Linked DNA regions of Homo sapiens: region 1 is linked to region 2. Evidence: fine-mapped expression QTL. Tissue or cell type: subcutaneous fat. Region 2 holds a variant in brackets; the other region holds the start of a gene. All regions are shown on one strand. Distances are between the middles of the regions.

Region 1 (5,000 bases), 22 kb after region 2:
GCCTCCCCAGTAGCTTGGGCCTACAGGTGTGCACCACCACACCCAGCTAATTTTTGTATTTTTTGTAGAGACGGGGTTTCACCATGTTGGCCAGGCTGGTCTCAAACTCCTGAGCTCAAGCAATCCACCCACCTCAACCTCCCAAAGTGCTGGGATTACAGGCGTAAGCCACTGCACCTGGCTATTTTCTTTCTTTCTTTTCTTTTTTTTTTTTTTTTGAGACGGAGTTTCACTCTGTTGCCCAGGCTGGAGTGCAGTGGCGTGATCTCGGCTCACTGCAACTTCCACCTCCCGGGTTCAAGCAATTCCCTGCCTCACCCGGCTATTTTATATTTGTTGATCTGCTGCTGGTTATGCCTGTGAGCCAAATTTGTACAAATTCTTAAGCTTTACAATCATGCGTGCCTCTCTGTACGTATATTATACTTTAATTAAAAGTTATTAAAGTATTGGGGCCGAGCACAGTGGCTCACGCCTGTAATCCCAACACTTTGGGAGGCTGAGGCTGGTGCATCACCTGAGGTCAGGAGTTTAATACCAGCCTGGCCAATACAGTAAAACCCCGTCTCTACTAAAAATACAAAAAATTAGCCGGGTGTGGTGGCACACACCTGTAATCCCAGCTACTTGGGAGGCTGAGGCAGGAGAATTGCTTGAACCCGGGAGGCAGAGGTTGCAACGAGCCAAGGTCACGCCATTGCACTCCAGCCTCGGCAACAAGAGCGAGACTCCATCTCAAAAAAATAAATAAAAAATAAAAAATGTATCAGGGAGTACAAGAGAAAGTCATATAAGCTCTTTCTACTTTTCATGGTTTCTATGTCTGAACCCATGAATCTTCCTTCTGAAAGGTCCAACTTTCTTCTTTAATAACAATAATAATGGCAAAGGCATTGGGGGACCGTGAGCAAAGGGCAGGCCTTTGCAGGGGTGGGAATGGAAAGGGAAGCACGTCCCTAGAGGTGGGCCTGGGATGGGGGTTGGGGGATGAAGCAAGTGGACCTTGAAGGTCTCCACAGGTCTGAGTGTCCTATGCTCCCTGGGCCTCTCTTCCCCCAGGTCTTCTCGTTCGCAACTGCACCATCACTGCCAATGCTGAGTGTGCCTGTCGCAATGGCTGGCAGTGCAGGGACAAGGAGTGCACCGAGTGTGATCCTCTTCCAAACCCTTCGCTGACCGCTCGGTCGTCTCAGGCCCTGAGCCCACACCCTCAGCCCACCCACTTACCTTATGTCAGTGGTAAGTTCCAGGCAACTCTCTGTGCCATCACGTGGGGTAGCGGTGATACCCCAACCAGTACTCCCCACTCCTACCCCTAGATAAGGTCAGCCTGTTTCTGCCTTCCCATCCCATCCAGCACCTCTCAGGCCTTCAGATGTGCCCTATGGGGTCCCCTGCTGCTACTCATTCTGTCTCTGTTTTTCCAGAGATGCTGGAGGCCAGGACAGCTGGGCACATGCAGACTCTGGCTGACTTCAGGCAGCTGCCTGCCCGGACTCTCTCTACCCACTGGCCACGTGAGTTTTCTCCTTAATCCCCACCGCTAGAGAGAATGCATACACGAGGGGCCAGGAGGGAAGCCAGACAGAAAGCTCCTAGGATTAGGGATAAGAGGAGGGGAAAAAGCAGAGTCCACTGTTTAGGAGAGGAGTTGGCCAACGGTGGCGGGTGGGATAGAATAAGGTGGGGGAAAGGGGAGAGGCAAGGTGACAGGAGGGCTGGGCTGAGGGAGCCAAGGGCTAGACCCTCCCCTAACCCCTGTGTGTCCCCTCCTATTACAGCCCAAAGATCCCTGTGCAGCTCCGATTTTATTCGCATCCTTGTGATCTTCTCTGGAATGTTCCTTGTTTTCACCCTGGCCGGGGCCCTGTTCCTCCATCAACGAAGGAAATATAGATCAAGTAAGAGACAGAACACAGGCCTCCGGTCCTGCCCCTGCACCACACCCCACTGGCTCAACCCCACTGCCCACGCCTGGAATCTCACTGAAACCCACCAGCTCCACTTCACCAGCCTTGGTCCTACCCCTTCTCTCCCCTTAGCTGGCGTGCTCCTGACACCCCTCCCCCAAGCGCACCCGCCTCTACCCATCTCCTTCTCCCGTCTCCCCCTGCCCCCACTGCTGGCCAAGACTCATCGGATCTCCTTCTGCAGACAAAGGAGAAAGTCCTGTGGAGCCTGCAGAGCCTTGTCATTACAGCTGCCCCAGGGAGGAGGAGGGCAGCACCATCCCCATCCAGGAGGATTACCGAAAACCGGAGCCTGCCTGCTCCCCCTGAGCCAGCACCTGCGGGAGCTGCACTACAGCCCTGGCCTCCACCCCCACCCCGCCGACCATCCAAGGGAGAGTGAGACCTGGCAGCCACAACTGCAGTCCCATCCTCTTGTCAGGGCCCTTTCCTGTGTACACGTGACAGAGTGCCTTTTCGAGACTGGCAGGGACGAGGACAAATATGGATGAGGTGGAGAGTGGGAAGCAGGAGCCCAGCCAGCTGCGCCTGCGCTGCAGGAGGGCGGGGGCTCTGGTTGTAAAACACACTTCCTGCTGCGAAAGACCCACATGCTACAAGACGGGCAAAATAAAGTGACAGATGACCACCCTGCAGCTCTCCAGCTTCCTCTCTGAAATCCCAGTCCCAAAATCCAGTTTCCTGGCCGCCTCCTGGCTCAGGTCAGGATCTGGCAGAGGAGGTTTCTCAGCCGGTTATGTTGGGGCCTGCTTAAGGGCGGGGGTGAGAAAGGTCCCCAGGCTACTGTGGATCCTGTGTCTGACTTCAGATCCCCTTTTCCCACAGTTATAGCTCCACTTTTTTGGGACAGGTGGGGAGCAAAAGGGTGCAGAGGTCAGGTCTTGAAATCACCAGGGGATTTCCGGGTGAGGTGGGTGGTGAGAAAGGAAACAGCAAGCAGGGCTCTGGCAGCTGCTGCAGACGGCTTCACACAGGGACGCGGGCTGCCATCTTGCTCTAAGTGAAAGTGAAAGAAAAGTCGGCAGCAGAGGGAACAGGGAAGAAACCTAAAGGCTGCAGGCTGCCAGGTGTGCTTGGAGAGCCCCCTTCTTCCGCCGGGCCTCGCAAGCAGCGTAGGACTGTGGAGAAGGGCGGTGGGCAAGGAGGGAACTCGAGAGCAGCCTCCATGGGCACACAGGAGGGCTGGTGCCTGCTGCTCTGCCTGGCTCTATCTGGAGCAGCAGAAACCAGTGAGTCTGGGAGTCGGGGAGAGCTGGCTGGGAGAAGAGCTACTGAAGCCCCAGGGTGCCACCCTCCCCGAGATTCCAGAAGAGCAAAGGGGCCGGGGATGACCCCATCGCCTTCTAAGCCCAACAGGGGAAAGGCTCAGCGGCTGGCAAAGGAAGGAACCAATAGTGTGTGTGGAGGGAGGGTGGGGACTCCACAGGGAAAATGCTAAAGAGGGGCTGCCTCTGTGGCTGTGGTCAGGAGCCACTGTCCTACAGAGAGGGCACTGGCCTGGGAGCTGACACTTCAGAAGAGGAAAGGACTCCCCAGGTGAGGAAATCACTTGGAAGGTGACCTTGAAGGCGGGGGAGGGGAAGGCTACCCGAAATGGGAGAAAGCAGTGCAGGCTGTCAGTGCCCCAGCAACAGTAACTGTCCAGTCTCCTCTCTCTGCGGTGGCACTTGCTTGTTTTCTGAGAATTCCTTTGACTGAAAAGATAGTCTTTTATTCAACAGTTGGAAATGCAAGCATAAACTCCTCTGAGCAAGGCAAATCCAGGACTTTAACTCTCACCAAGAAGTATTTGCCTGGACTAGCAGGTGCTCTCCAGAAAGCTGGTTTGGGGATGACGGGAGAATAGAGGGACACAGAAACAGCTAGGATCTTGGATGGCAACTTTTACCCTTTGATGACTCCACAGCTTGAGGGCGGGGGCAGGAAGCAAGTGTGGAGTAGCTTTCTGGGGAAGGCGGTGCTCACCCCAGCCTTTGTCTGCAGAGCCCCACCCAGCAGAGGGGCAGTGGCGGGCAGTGGACGTGGTCCTAGACTGCTTCCTGGCGAAGGACGGTGCGCACCGTGGAGCTCTCGCCAGCAGTGAGGACAGGGCAAGGGCCTCCCTTGTGCTGAAGCAGGTGCCAGTGCTGGACGATGGCTCCCTGGAGGACTTCACCGATTTCCAAGGGGGCACACTGGCCCAAGATGACCCACCTATTATCTTTGAGGCCTCAGGTAAAAGCCTTCCACCTGTGTCCTTGGTCCTCCCGGGCTCCCTCCACCAGGACAGCCCAGGTCCCGATTACAGCCACACATACTGCCTCCCGTTGGCCCTGGTGTTCTCACGCTAATTTGCCCTCTGTGTGTGCCCTGCTTCTCCCCAGTGGACCTGGTCCAGATTCCCCAGGCCGAGGCCTTGCTCCATGCTGACTGCAGTGGGAAGGAGGTGACCTGTGAGATCTCCCGCTACTTTCTCCAGATGACAGAGACCACTGTTAAGACAGCAGCTTGGTTCATGGCCAACATGCAGGTCTCTGGAGGGGGACCTAGCATCTCCTTGGTGATGAAGACTCCCAGGGTCACCAAGAATGAGGCGCTCTGGCACCCGACGCTGAACTTGCCACTGAGCCCCCAGGGGACTGTGCGAACTGCAGGTAAGAAAATGAAAAGCAAGGCCAGGTGTGGTGGCTCACGCCTGTAATTCCAGAATTTTGGGATACCGAGGTCGGTGGATCACCTGAGGTCAGGAGTTTGAGATCAGCCTGGTCAACACGGTGAAACCCCGTCTCTACTAATACCAAAATTAGCCGGGCATGGTGGCGGGTGCCTGTAATCCCAGCTACGAGGGAGGCTGAGGCAGGAGAATCGCTTGAACCCGGAAGGCAGAGGTTGCGGTGAGCCGAGATCACACCATGGCACTTCAGCCTGGGCAACAAGAGCGAAACTCCATCTCAAAAAAAAAAAAGAAAAGAAAAGAAAAGCAAGTCACAGAAAGTTTTGCTTTTCTAAAGTGGTAAGATATGGGGCACAGAAGAAGAAAGGGAACAAATC
Region 2 (7,998 bases):
GATCGCTTTGAGCCCAGGAGTTCAAGACCAGCCTGGACAACCTGGTGAAACCCTGTCCCTAGTAAAAATGCAAAAACTAGCTGGGCTTCATGGCGTGCGCCTGTAGTTCCAGCTACTCGGGAGGCTGAGGTGGGAGGACTGCTTGAGGCGAGGAGTTCGAGGCTACAGTGAGCCGTGATCACACCACTACACTCTAGCCTGGGCAACAGAGCCAGACCCTGTCTCACAAAACAAAAGAAACAAACAAACCACACAAACTTGCAACATCCTGCTTCTTGCAGCTCTCCCCATCCGGCCCACCCCATTCCTTTGGCGTGAAAATATGATGGGGTCTCCTCAGCCCTAGAAGCACCCACACCGTTCAACCTAAAGCTCCCACTGACTAGCTGAGCTCTCATAAAGGTGAGATTTGTCGCATACGCCTCCCATACACCTCTTCCTAGTAGATTTCTTCACTCTTTCCCTTCCATTCTGAGCACGGCCCCACTTAAGGAACTCTCAGCTCTCATGTTGCCCTATCCCAGTCAAGAAGGAAGTTGCTGGTGATCAAGTCATACTCCAGTGAACACTGACTGGCACCTCTTCTGCATCAAGTCCTAGCAGGGCATTCACCCGAGTTACCAAACATGGCTGCTCACACCCGCCCTCCGAGGCCAGCATCTGCATCCCCATGTGACAGTGGAAACAAACCCACGGAGCCTGAGCAACTGGGCAGCCAGCAAGTGACTGAGCAGAGAGACGGCCTTGGACGCAGGCCAAGCAGCACAGATTTACTCGAATCATCCTCCGCTCCTTCAGATTTTCACCAGCTGATTGATCCTTGGACTTCCCCCCCAGGCTTCTCTGACATCACCAGCCACCAGGACCCTGCCTATGCCTGTGGCCTGCAACATTCCTCTATGCACATCAAAGTAGGGAGCATCAGGCCGGGTGCGGTGGCTCACACCTGTAATCCTAGCACAATGAAAGACCGAGGTGGGCAGATAACTTGAGACCAGGAGTTCAAGACCAGCCTGGCCAACACGGCGAAACCCCATCTCTACTAAAAATACAAAACAATTAAGCAGGGATGATGGTGTGTGCCTGGGGTCCCAGCTACTTGGGAGGCTGAGGCATGAGAATTGTTTGAACCCGAACCCAAGGCTGAGGCAGAAGTTGCAGTGAGCCAAGATCGCGCCACTGCACTCCAGCCTGGGTGAGAGAACTCCAGCCTGGGTGACAGAGGGAGGCTCCATCTCCCAAAAAACAAAACAAAACAAACAAACAAAAAAAACAAGTAGACAGCATCAATTCTGGCCAACTTATGGGTAAAAGAGAAGGCTGCCACAGCCCTTGCCCTTTGGGAGTGCCTGTCCCTTCAGTAGCTGCCCCAAAAATCCTGCAGAAGAGAAGGGTCAGAGGAAGCACCTGTAATAAAGGGTGAGGCCCCACCAACCCACTCTCTTCCTCTCCTCTCCTAGCCGAGGGAGCCATCAGAGGCAAAGGGAGTGTGGGAAAGATTAGTCAGACATGTTTCCCTTTGTGTCACAGAGTCAAACTCTCCATCCGTGACTTCAGAAAAGTCACAAGAGAGCCCCAGCAACGGCCCACAGGGTGTCATAGCAACACGCCTACACCTCAAGGTGCCACCTTCCAACTCTGGAGAAAACAACTGCCTTCTTCAAATGTCAACTGCTACATGGGCAAAGAGCAACTTGAAAATGAAATTCGGGGCTGGGCGCAGTGGCTCACACCTGTAATCATTTTGAGAGTCCAAGGCGGGTGGATCACTTGAGCCCAGGAGTTCCAGACCAGCCTGGGCAACATGGCAAAACCACATGTCTTCAAAAAAATACAAAAAGTAGACAGGCATGATGGCATGCACCTGTAGTCCCAGCTACTCGGGAGGCTGAAGTGGGAGGATCACTTGAACCCGGGAAGTGCAGGCTGCAGTGAGCCGAGGTTGCACCACTGCACTCCCCACTCAGTCTGGGTGACAGAGCGAGACACTGTCTAAAAAAAAAAAAAGAAGAAGAAAAAAAGAAAGAAAGAAAATGAAATTGAAATTAGGGGCCGGGCACAGTGGCTCATGCTTGTAATCCTAGCACTTTGGGAGGCCGAGGCAGGCGGGATCACCTGAGGTCAGGAGTTTGAGACCAGCCTAACCATGATGGTAAAACCCAGTCTCTACTAAAAACACAAAATTAGCTGGGCATGTGTGGCGCATGCCTGTAATCCCAGCTATTCAGGAGGCTGAGGCAGGAGAATCACTTGAACCCAGGAGGTGGAGATTGCAATGAGCCGAGACTGCGCCATTGCACTCCAGCCTGGGCAACAAGAGCGAAACTCCATCTCAAAAAAAAAAAAAAATGAAATTAGGAAAAACAACTCAATTTACAATAGCATCAAAAAGAATAAATACTTAGGCATACATTGGCCAGGTGCGGTGGCTCACATCTGTAATTCCCACATTTTGGGAGGCCAAGGCAGGCGGATCACCTGAGGTCAAGAGTTCGAGACCAGACTGGCCGACATGATAAAACCCTGTCTCTACTAAAAATACAAAAAATTAGCCAGGCGTGGTGGCAGGCACCTATAATCCCAGCTACTCGGGAGGCTGAGGCTGCAGAATCGCTTGAACCTGGGAAGCAGAGGCTGCAGTGAGCTGAGATTGGGCCGCTGCACTCCAGCCTGGACAACAGAGTGAGACTCTGTCTCGAGAAAAAAAAAAAAAAACTTGGTATACATTTAACAAAGAAAGTGCAAGACTCATACACTGAAAACTAGAAAACATTGTTGAAAGACATTAAAGAAATCCTAAATAAATGGAAAGACATCTGTGTTCATGGACTGAAGGTAACAATATTTCCCAATTTCATCTACAGACTCTATGCAATCCCCATCGAAATTCTAACTGCCTTCTTTTTTGCATAAATGGACAAGCTGATCTTAAAATTCACATGCAAATGCAAGGGACACAGAGTAGCCAAAATAATTTTGAAAAAGAAGAACGAAGTTGAAGTCCCAATTTCGAAACTTACTATAAAGCTACAGTAATCAAAACCATGGTATTGACCTAAAGACAGACATACAGATCAATGGAATACAATTTAGAGTCCAGAAATCAACCCATACATCTATTGTCAATTAATTTCAGCAAGGGTGCCAAGACCATTCTGTGTGAAAAGAATAGTCTTTTCAAGAAGCAGTGCTAGGACAACTGCATATCCACAAGTAAAAGAATGAAGTTGGACCCCTACCTAAAACCAGATAAAAAATTTAACTCAAAATAAATCAAAGAACTAAATTTAAGAGTTAAAACTATAAAACTCTTAGAGGGAAATATAAGTGAAAATCTGTATGAGTTTGGATTCGGCAACAGTTTCTCAAATATGATGCCAAAAGCACAGGCAACAAAAGAAACAGTAGATAAACTGGACTTCATCAAAATGTGAAACTTTTTTTTTTTTTTTTGAGACGGAGTCTCGCTCTGTCTCCCAGGCTGGAGTGCAGTGGCGTGATCTCTGCTCACTGCAAGCTCCGCCTCCTGGGTTCACGCCATTCTCCTGCCTCAGCCTCCCGAGTAGCTGGGACTACAGGCGCCCGCCACCACGCCCGGCTAATTTTTTGTATTTTTAAGAGACGGGGTTTCAGCATATTGGCCAGGCTGGTCTCCATCTCCTGACTTCGTGATCCGCCCGCCTTGGCCTCCCAAAGTGCTGGGATTACAGGCATGAGCCACCATGCCCGGCCCAAAATGTGAAATTTTTATGCATCAAAGGGCACTATTAAGAAGGTAAAAAGACAACCCACAGTATGGGATAAATTTTTTTTTTTTTTTTTCTGAGACGGAGTCTCGCTCTATCGCCCAGGCTGGAGTTCAGTTGTGCGATCTCGGCTCACTGCAAACTCTGCCTCCCGGGTTCCACACCATGCTCCTGCCTCAGCCTCCCGAGTAGCTGGGACTACAGGCGCCCGCCACAACGCCTGGCTAAATTTTTTTTTTTTTTTTTTTTAATTTTTAGTAGAGACGGGGTTTCACTGTGTTAGCCAGGATGGTCTCGATCTCCTGACCTCGTGATCTGCCCGCCTCGGCCTCCCAAAGTGCTGGAATTACAGGTGTGAGCCCCCGCCCCGGGCCAGAGAAAATATTTTCAAATCACTTATCTAGTAAGGTCTAGAATTCATAATATCAAAAAGAAAAAAAAAAAAACTCTTGCAACTCAGCAACAAAAGACACAAATAATTTAATTTAAACACGGGCAAAGGACTTGAA[C/T]AGACATTTCTCCAAAGAAAATATACAAATGGCGATGAGCACATAAGAAGATTCTCAACATCATTAGTCTTAGTGAAATACAAATCAAAACCACAATAAGATACCACTTCACACCAACTAGGGTAGTTATAACTTTTTCAAAAATAGAAATGTATCTGTGATATTTGCACATCTTTGTGAATATAGTAAAAGCACTGAATTGCACATTTTTAAATGATGAAAATGATTCATTTTATCTCAGTAAAAGTCTAGCCACTGAATTGTACATTTTTAAATTATTAAAATGATTCATTTCATCTCAGTAAAAGTCAACAGGCACCAGGGATCCCTTCAGTTTGGGCTGGAGGTCAGTGCAGTTTGGGGGGTCATCAAATGCTGAAGCAGAAGGAGTTTAGGGGTCACGCAAGTCCCAGCTGCCGTGTGACAAGTGAGGTAAAGGACACACCCTCTGTGGAGGTCTGAAGTCCCCTGACATTAGTAAGGGAGGGACAGCAGAGATCTCCCCTGTCACCACGAGGCTTTTTTCAGCCCCCAGGGCAGATGGCAAGTGTATACCATGTTTGGCACCCCTGTGATTGGCAGAGGCAATGCAGGTTGGGTCTGGAGGACAAGATTGCTGTGGGGGAGAGCCAAGGGTGGACTTCAGAACACTGGTGGTGACATAAGGGTAAAAAGGCCTTGGTCACAAAAGAGGAAACACAAACAGCGCGATCATGGAAAGACGCTCAGCCTCCCCGGGAATGGGAAGAGTGCACACTGAAACAATGAGACAGCACTTTCCTCCAATGAGATGCTCAAAAACAGTTTGCTAATACGAAAGCCTGGCAGGACGTGAGGAAATATGTGCTATCATTCCACTGCTGGTGGGAGTGTGAATTGGTAGGGCCACTCTGGAGGGCAACTCGCCAGCATCTGTTAAAGTGAAAAATGTGCACACCCTGTGACTCAGCGATTCCGATGCCCCGCACTTATTCTAGAGAGACACTCCCACATGCACAGCGAAGTATGAGATGTTTATGCAACACCACTTACGATAGTGCATTGTTGGGAACAACCTAAGTATTCGGGAACCAGGAGAATGGCTAAAAAGCCTCTGCACATCCATTCTCTATTTAACGAAACGAGTAGTTCTAGAAGTATAAAATGAAATGATCTCCAAGACATATAACTGGATTAAAAGCACGAAAAGCAAATCGTAGGATACATACTGTATATCATTTATGGAAAGAACAAAACAAACACAAAAATACAACTGTGCTGGGGCCGATGGACAATTGTGCCTGGCAGGCTGAGTCATGAGGCCAGTTAACAAGCCTTTCTCTATCTGCAAAAAGAAGTACTTTAGAAAAGCAATATAAGAAGAACATGGACCAGGGGCAGTGGTTCATGCCTGTAATCTCAGCACTTTGAGAGGCTGGGGTGGAAGGATTTCTTGAGGCCAGGAATTTGAGACCAGCCTGAGAAACATAAAGAGACCCAGTCTCTACATAAAATTAAAAATCAGTCAGGCGTGGTAGTGTGCACCTCTGGTCCTAGATACTCTGGAGGCTGAGGTAGAAAGATCTCTTGAGCCCAGGAATTCGAGGCTACAGTGAGCCATGATTGTGCCACTGCACTCCAGCCTGGGTGAGTAAGCAAGGCTGTCTCTAAAACACAAAAAGAAGAAGAACATGGAACTGCCAGACTTGGGCTATTTCATTTCCCAGAGATAATTTTTTACCGAGTGGAGAGAAAATGGGTGGTTTGTTCCTTAGGCTCTATTTCTTGCTCTGTGCTAGAATTATCGCAGCTTTGTGTAAGATTTCCTTCAGCAAATATAGGTAGCCTGCGATGCCCCAAATAAGAAAGGAAAAGACAAAGTCAGATGTTACTGCTGTCGGTCATCTCAGGTATGAAAAAGAGAGGCAGGCCCCTTGCCAGGGAGAAGGAACAACCAGATGCTGTCCATGAGGCACTCTCCTACCTCTCCTAAGACAGGGGTCGCCCTTGCTCTGAAAAATTCAAGCAGAGAATCCTCAGGAGGAGTGGGGCCAAGAAATCAGAGTAAGAAATATTTGATTATTGCTTAATAACATTTTAAGTAGAAAATAAAATAATTTTTTAAAACAGGCTGGCCGGGCGTGGTGGCTCACGCCTGTAATCCCAGCACTTTGGGAGGCTGAGGCAGGTGGATCACGAGGTCAGGAGATCGAGACCATCCTGGCCAACATAGCAAAACCCCATCTCTACTAAAAATACAAAAATTAGCTGGGCATGGTGGCATGCACCTGTAATTCCAGCTACTCGGGAGGTTGATGCAGGAGAATCGCTTGAACCTGGGAGGCGGAGGTTGCGGTGAGGCAAGATCATGCTATTGCACTCCAACCTGGTGACAGAGCGAGACTCTGTCTCAAAACAAAAACAAAAACAAACAAACAAACAAACAGGCCGGGCATAGTGGCTTACGCCTATAATCCCAGCACTTCAGGAGGCCGAGATGGGCGGATCACCTGAGGTCAGGAGTTCAAGACCAGCCTGACCAACATGGTGAAACCCTATGTCTACTAAAATATAAAAATTAGCCAGATGTGGTGGGGGGCGCCTATAATCTCAGCTACTCGGGAGGCTGAGATGGGAGAATTGCTTGAACCCAGGAGGTGAAGGTTGCAGTGAGCCGAGATCATGCCATTGCACTCCAGCCTGGACAACAAGAGCGAGACTCCACCTCAAAAAATAAGAAGGAAAGAAAATAATTTTTAAAAACATAAACATATGCCTACCACAGTGGCTCATGCCTGTAATCTCAGCACTGTGGGAGGCTGAGACAGCTGGATCAATTGAGGTCAGGAGTTCAAGACCAGCCTGGCCAACATGGTGAAACCCCATCTCTACTAAAAATACAAAAATTAGCCGGGTGTGCACACCTGTGGTCCCAGCTGCTTGGGTGGCTGAGGCAGGAGAATCACTTGAACCCAGGAGGTGGAGACTGCAGTGAGCTGAGAATGTGCCACTGCACTCCAGCCTTGGCAACAGAGACTCTGTCAAAAAACAAAAACAAAAACAAAAAACAAAAAACACCCACAACAACACACATAACTTTTTTGTCTAGGAAAGTTCTGGAAGAATACTCAATAATCTGAAAACAGTGCCTACACTAAGGAGGTAGGGAGAGGACCAGGGATTGGGGGAGGAGATTGATCAAAGGGAACCTGAGTCTTCTCTATAATTTTCCATTTTTTTTCATTTTCACCTCCAATTTTTAAAATATAATTTGTACTTTTTATTGTGAACTAAGATATGTAAAATAGTACATAAAAATAACACATTGAAAACCCACGTTCAGATCAGAAGATTAGTAGAACCTTCGAAGCGCCCTGATCACACCTTCCCTCCTCACCGGGGGAAGCAGCTCTGGCTTGTGTCTATCACTTCCTCACTTTCCTTTCTAGTTCTACCATCTGTGTGCACCCTGAACAGCAAACTGCTTCATTTTGCCTGTTTTTGAACTTTATAAATGGAATCGTATGTACTTTTCTATGCCTTGCTTCTGTGTGTTTGTGCACTATCACTTAACATGTTTTTCTATCTATTTATTTATTTATATTGTGGTAAAATATACATAAAATTTACCATTTAAACTATTTTTAAATGTATAATTCAGGGGGCATGAAGTACATTCACGATGTACAATATTATATTTTTGACATTCATGCAAATTAATCTACATGGCTACATGCAGGTGGTTCATATTCATTCCTCTAAAG

Evidence for each region. PIP is the estimated chance that this variant, and not a neighbour inherited with it, causes the effect.
Region 1: CD27-AS1 starts here. The variant in region 2 is fine-mapped to the expression of CD27-AS1 in subcutaneous fat (FUSION, PIP 0.95).

Annotation. Positions count from the first base shown.
Region 1 is chr12:6,449,114-6,454,113 of GRCh38, forward strand. It overlaps CD27-AS1 (CD27 antisense RNA 1), which reads right to left and starts at 2,404. Exons shown (of 6, transcript NR_015382.2): 1 at 1,228-2,404. CD27 (CD27 molecule) reads left to right here. Exons shown (of 6, transcript NM_001242.5): 3 at 1,060-1,239; 4 at 1,428-1,517; 5 at 1,782-1,901; 6 at 2,155-2,600. The coding sequence ends at 2,279. TAPBPL (TAP binding protein like) reads left to right here and starts at 2,929. Exons shown (of 7, transcript NM_018009.5): 1 at 2,929-3,199; 2 at 3,954-4,184; 3 at 4,334-4,603. The coding sequence starts at 3,136. RefSeq lists enhancers at 1,739-1,948, 2,039-2,198, 2,629-3,228.
Region 2 is chr12:6,425,547-6,433,544 of GRCh38, forward strand. No RefSeq gene overlaps it. Among named protein-coding and RNA genes, the nearest start is that of CD27, 15 kb to the right of the region's middle. RefSeq lists enhancers at 1,282-1,391, 1,432-1,671. The variant C/T (reference allele first, on the strand shown) is at 4,256.